2 linked regions of the Homo sapiens genome follow. The protein of the gene in region 1 purifies or fractionates together with the protein of each later gene. This does not show direct contact. Each region holds a gene or a part of one and is shown on either strand. Other genes may lie near its edges. The genes, in order: SNX7 and CD226.

The links.
Region 2: the proteins of SNX7 (region 1) and CD226 purify together in Homo sapiens (co-immunoprecipitation; one large-scale study listed by IntAct). This does not show direct contact.

Annotation. Positions count from the first base shown.
Region 1 is NC_000001.11:98,758,114-98,761,088, forward strand, and holds the end of SNX7 (sorting nexin-7), read left to right. Parts: intron 1-1,940; coding exon 1,941-2,018; 3' UTR 2,019-2,387; downstream 2,388-2,975. UniProt on the Homo sapiens protein: Involved in the regulation of endocytosis and in several stages of intracellular trafficking. Together with SNX4, involved in autophagosome assembly by regulating trafficking and recycling of phospholipid scramblase ATG9A.
Region 2 is NC_000018.10:69,853,663-69,857,497, forward strand, and holds part of CD226 (CD226 antigen isoform a precursor), read right to left. Parts: 3' UTR 1-3,835.

The sequences.
Region 1 (2,975 bases):
TAAGAACTCCAAAATATTTGTTGAGTGAAGAGATTTTTGTATGTCTACCCTCCATGCCCCCCAAATCATGCATAGTTTGGACAATTATAAATTACAGTCCAAAATTTGAAAAATATACTAAATGTGAAGTATTCATCTTTTATGCCTTTTCATGAGTATAGACATTTGGATACACTTAAAGATATCTAAATTCTTCTCCTGTACCGTCTAAGAGGAGGCCATTCTTACTAGTTGGCTCCTGTAGTAACTACCTGACCCTGACTCCTCTACTCCCCTCCCCTCCTCTTCCTATTTTATTTTGTTATTTCTCCATCCCTATGAGAGAGGCTATTATTATTATATATCTGAGGAGCTACAATATCATAAAGTTAGTAACTTACTGGAGGATAAAAGCAAATCCCAGAATCAATTCATTACAGTGACTGTGCTTCTTGGATTGTACTTGGCTTTCAGTACCTTCTAAAGCTATTTAAAGCAAAAAGTATCCCTTAAAGTCTTGATAAACTTGATTATTCTAATGAGGCCTACATTACCCCAAGCCTGGCCTTCAAAATATATGACAAAATAAATACCCACTATTTAATCCAGTAATTTATTGGGTAAATTTTACCCAGTATCTTTTTATTTGACAATTAGGTCTTTCAGTGTTTTACTGTTCTCATGTAATTATACGAATCTTTTAGCTTTATTATTAGCTTCCTAAGTTATTAGAGCCTATCTCAGAATTAAATCACAGTATGTAATCTTTATGAAAATCAGATTTGACATAGTATTTCCCATATTCTAAATCTTCAGTTTGAAAAAAATGTGTTTGTGCATACACACACACACACACACATAAGTATATACATACATACTTTTTGAAATGCAACACACTTATAATTTGAGAGCTTTAAACATTTGAGTTTTTACAGTGTTTGAGAAATCTCTAGTCTGTTATTAGTGCTGGTTGTCCGATATAGACACTTTAAAGCTGTGAAAGCATTAGAGGCAGAAGAAGTGACATGGAGGTAGTTGAGCCAGGTGGACCAGTGTTAATCAGTCCAGCTTTGGAGTGTTTATGTAGAAACATACATGTCTATGGCAGTCTATCCACATTTGAAAAAAAAAAACATAATTTCTTTCCAAATTCATTATAGCTCAGGCTGAATATATATTAGAGTAGTTATGATTTACAAGAATCCTAAATGTGTACAGACTATTAAAATTATGCTGTAGATAAACTTCATACAGATACTTGAGACTAGTCTATTAGGAGGATCATCCCCAGGCAAAATCAAATAGGCCACATTTATGTTTATGTGTTCCCAGCGCCTTCAGACCCTTACAATCCTGTTTCATTTCCTGTGGCACATTAATAACTAAGTCTTTCCACCCAGTCCCAACAGACCATCATAACAGTTGCTAACTTTTGGAGCATTCACTTTATGCTAGGCATTCTGCATAGAGACTTATACAGATTATATACATTTAATTCTCACAGTTGTGCTAGTGGTAAGTACTATTATTAACCTAAGTTATAGCTGAAGAAACTCCAATAAAGATTAATCAACTTTCTCAAACTCACAATTGACGTAATGGGATTCAAATCGAACTGAAGTATGTTTGTATCATCACTCCTCCTCAGCTCCAGCTGGGTCCATCTTTGCCTCTATAACGTGAAGCTCTTATTTTTCTCTTAATATGGGGTAATAGTAGATTATTTCAGCAAACTAATCCTTGCTAATCTTTTTAACCTTTAATATGTTTTCCCCTTACTTAGCAGTAGCATCCCTCATTAAGAATTAAAATATGTAGAAAATGACAAGGATTCTGACAAGCTGATGGGAGAGAAGAATAGAGCAGATTGCAGTAGGAACAGATGTGTTAGAATTTATTAATCCTTTAACACTGAAAGTAAACTATTGTTGATTGCCTCATGGTGTGTTTCCATTATTCAGTGCCTTGCTACGTGGGAGTCATTCCTTACATCACAGACCAACCTTCACTTGGAAGAAGCCTCTGAAGATAAACCTTAATCCCATTGAGGACTTCTGTTTGATCTTTGGGAGACAGCATTTATTAACCAAAGTTATTCTTTCTGGATCTGCCGTGTCCTTATAAAGTGGATGAAAAATGTTTTGTACCCATCTGGAAAACCAACAACTTGAAATCTCAGGTATTCCAGGTCACTGACATGAATTTGAAGATATATCTATCTGTATGGATATATATCTATATGTATATAGATATATAAATACAGAGAGATATCTGGCTTGGTTTTAATTATGTTCTTAAATTTGTGTGCCAATAATTGCATATAGATTTTTTTTCTTAAATATTTGACTGTGGAACATGCCATTTTAAATATGTTGTAAGGACTGTTTTAATAAAAAGTTTAGTATGAAGTGGTTGGCTGCAGTGTATTCTTTTCCTCCTAGTAGCTCAAGCCTCTTAAACATTCTAAAATGAGTTCAGCATGTGTTAACAAGTATACTGCGTATTCATTTTTATTTCATTATCATTTCCTCTGAAATACTATTCAGTTTAATATTAGGAACTCAAAGTAATATCTAAAAATTGACATTATTAAAATTGATAACTGTTCAAAAATTAATTTGTTAAAAGTTAAGTAATTGTTTTCCACAATTAAAAAGTTTCCAAGATTTAAATTGTTATTTGAGTTATTAGTTAGAAATCCTTATATAATTATATTCCCACTAGTAGATATATTTGGGCTTTGTAAAATTTGTGCATATTCTTTACAATTCATACCTAGCTTTTATTTGTTAAGATATACAGTGTTTATCCAGTTTATTTTCCCATTCATTTATTGTCTACTCCATGCAAGGCACAGTTGTAGGTGCTTATGTTCTGTAGTGATGAAAAAGATACTTTCAGAGCTTACATTCTAGTAATACTGATCATACAGATTTTTTCTATTAATTTTATAACCATATAAAAAAGCTAAATGTGTTGATTATTTAATTTTTGCT
Region 2 (3,835 bases), on another chromosome or scaffold:
ATGAGTGAGCATCCCCAGCAGTTCATCTTTAGTTTATTTCCAATCGCATAGACTTGACATGTTATCTCCTTGTGGCTTGTGCTACAAATTTTCCTTATTACCTTTTGCCTCTGGACTTGAATATTTGTATAAGGCCTGATGTTGATCCAAGCACAGACAGTGAAACTCAGTATGATCTACTCATCTTCAGTTTGATGTCTATACTTCATTTCATATTTATTTAAAAAATAAATATGTGCTTCATTTTGGATCATGATTTATAAAGATGAGCCAAAGAGCAGCCTAGACGAGAGCAAGTCATATGGAATGGAGTCCAGCAACAGGAACCCTAGTGCAGTATCAGAAAGTCAGGGCAAAGAGACAGGTCAGAAACCACGATAACAAAAAACATATGTGTTAAAATGTTTATACATGGAGATCGACTTCTGCCTTTAGTGTCATCATGTTAAGGCATGGAAGATGTTGCTGCCATGCTTATAACAAGACAAAGCTGGAAAGTTGGAAAGCTGAAAATCAATGACTTTTCTTATTAGACCTATTAGAGAACCAAGGTCCTGAGCAAACTGCCACCCCAAAATCTGGAGATACAGATACATCCAGAGAGATACGCAACCAATAGCCATTTATCTGGAGTCAAAGCACTGGAGCCATAAACTAGTATGAGCCTTTATATGGTAAGTTGGGTGAATTGCTGGCATCTGTTTGTGGACTGGTGTGAGCAAGAAACCCATGGGGGCTGTGCTCTTGAGGCACTCCACACATTCAAGGGCTTTTCCAGTAGGAAACTCCAAGGTTCTCATTATGAGGATCCAAGAAAAATTTCCTCGTGGCTCTGGCAACAGATAGAGAGGGACATCCATTGAGAAATAAGCCATGAACCTTCTTGGTAACAAAGATGGAAAGGACTCTGCCAAGCACAATTCCCAAACCTCATCCCAGCCCCTGAAGTCTCCCTGTCCCACTTAAGGAAAGAGGGAAAATAACAGTCAACAGGGGGCAGGCCTTCAAAGAAATACATTGGGAATGCTGCAGCCAGGAAAGAGAGTTGAGGATGAGGAAGCAATACCACTGGAGAAGCTCTGTGAATGTCCCAGACACAGACCCACTAAAAGACTGAGATTTCACTGTAAGATTACAGAGCACTCTCCTTTCCCACAGCTTAGTACTACACCAACAGGGCTCCAGTATAGTAACAGTGAATTGCAGAGGAAAGAGCTGAAAGACAGAAAGTCTCTCTGAAGAGGAGCACTTAGGGAAGCCTGAACTCAAGAAGGGGAAAAACACATGAACAAACAAAACAAAGACACTAGAGGAATTTGAAGAAATTTAGCACCTATGGTTATAACAGACTTTAAACACAGTCTAATAGTTAGTCAGATTAAGATAAGTCTGCAAGCTAAAGACTTATTTACCTGTTCCTATTACATAACACACCAGATCTGGCTTGCAACAAAAAATTCAAAAAAAATGTCAAAGAACGTCAAAAGGCAAGAAAAGTCATGGTCTGAAGAGATAAAGCAATCATTGGAACCAGATAGAGACATGACACGTGTCAGAATTATCAGACATGGAACTTATCATTAATATGTTAAGAGCTCTCATGAAAAAAATAGACAACAGATGGATAATGTAAGAAGAAAGATGGAAACACTAAGAAGGAATAAAAAAGAAATGGTAGCAATAAAAAACATAGTAATAGAAAGGAAGGATATCTTTGATGCAATTATCAGTTGACTTGGAACCCCGAAGGAAGAATGAATGACTTTGAAGCTAGGCCAATAGAAACTTTTCAAACTAAAATTCAAAGAGTGGGAAAAACCCAGAATATTCAAGACTATGGAATAATTGAAGAAGAAGAAAGAATGGAGCAAAAGAATGTTAGAAGTAATAACGTCTGGGAACTTGCCAAAATTAGTGATAGACACCAACTCAGGTAGCTCAGATAACACTAAATAGAATAAATACCAAAAAAAAGAGGGGAAAAGGAGAAAAACCTAGGTTGATCAATGAAAGATATGCCACGAGAGAAAATTAAATCATGTAAAAACCCCAGTTAAAATCAGAGAACACAGAAAAAGGAGGATAAAAAAGAAAGAACGAGTGCAAGGATAGAAAAGTTACAAACATAGTAGATATTAATCCAACTATATCAATAATCACTTAAATTTGAATAATCTAAATGTACCAATTAGAAGTGGTGGGTTTAAACACACAAAAAAGATGAATGTTAGAGGTGACAGATATCACGATTACCCAATATGATCATTACATATTGTATACAGGTATCAAAACATCACATGTACCCCCCAAATATATACAACTCCTATATATCTACAACATTTTTAAGTAAGAAAAGTGGGGAAATTACAAATAGACGCAACTATACATTGTCTATAAGAAAGGCACATTAAATATAAATATTTAGATAATTTAAAATTAAAAGGATAAAGATGTGAGATGCTAATGTTAATTTTTTAAAAAACTGAAAGTTATGTTAATATCAGAAAAAGCAGACAGAACAAGAAAGATTATCAAGAATAAAAGGGACATTACATGTGGTAAAGGGGTCAATTCTCCAAGAAAACCTAACGATTCTGAAAGTATATGTACTAACAAGAGTATCAAGATACATGAGACAAAAACTAACAAAACTGCAAGGAGAAATAGAAAAATCCACTATTTTACTTGCAGTCTTTAACGAGACTTGATCACTTGATCTGTCAGTATGTGATAGATCAAGAAGAGGGAAAATCAGAAAGGATATAGATAATCTGAACGGTGGTATCAATCAGTTTAATCTAATGGACATTTGTAGAATATTACACTCAACAGCAGAATGAACATTCTTCTTAAGATCACATGAAACATTCTACAAGATAGACCATATTCTGGGCCATAAAATACACCTGAAAAATTTAAAAGAATAGAAATTATACAAAGAATGTTTTTAAAACATGATGAAATTAAGTTAGAAATCTGTAAGAGATATAAAGTAGAAAAATCCCAAAATATATAGAGATTAAACAACACATTGTAAATAATTCATGGCTCAAAGAAGAAATATCAAAAGAAATTTTAAAATATTTTGGACTAAATGAAAATAAAAATAGAGCTTACCAAAACTTGTGGAACAAAGTGAAATTTATAGCATTAAGTGCCACTATTGGAAAAGAAAACAACATATAAAATCAATAATCTAGGCTTCCACCTTAAGAAACTAAGGAGGCCGGGCGCGGTGGCTCACTCCTGTAATCCCAGCACGTTGGGAGGCCGAGGCGGGCGGATCACGAGGTCAGGAGATCGAGACCACCCTGGCTAACACGGTGAAACCCCGTCTCTACTAAAAATACAAAAAAATTAGCTGGGCATGGTGGTGGGCGCCTGAAGTCCCAGCTACTCGGGAGGCTGAGGCAGGAGAATGGCGTGAACCTGGAAGACGCAGCTTGCGGTGAGCCGAGGTCGCACCACTGCACTCCAGCCTGGGCGACAGAGCGAGACTCCGTCTCAAAAAAAGATAGCTATTCATTAGACATTGAAAGAATTATAAAATAGACATACAAAATTACAGAAAGGTTAGAAGAGTAATCTCTATCTCTAGAAGCTACTGAGCCATTACATTTCTTTGTACATTTTTTATGTGAGCTAAAATCAAAATTTGCTTCTGAGGACCATTATACGATAAAAATAAAGTGTGGGATAAATCAGCTCAACTGAAGCCACATCCAAAGCTGTTACTCAGAAAACTTAGTATCACTGAGAGTATATTGGAGAGCTCAAAGTCTTACTCAGGCAGCTGATCAAAGAATAATGGTCTTAGTCACTGTAAGTACTTTTG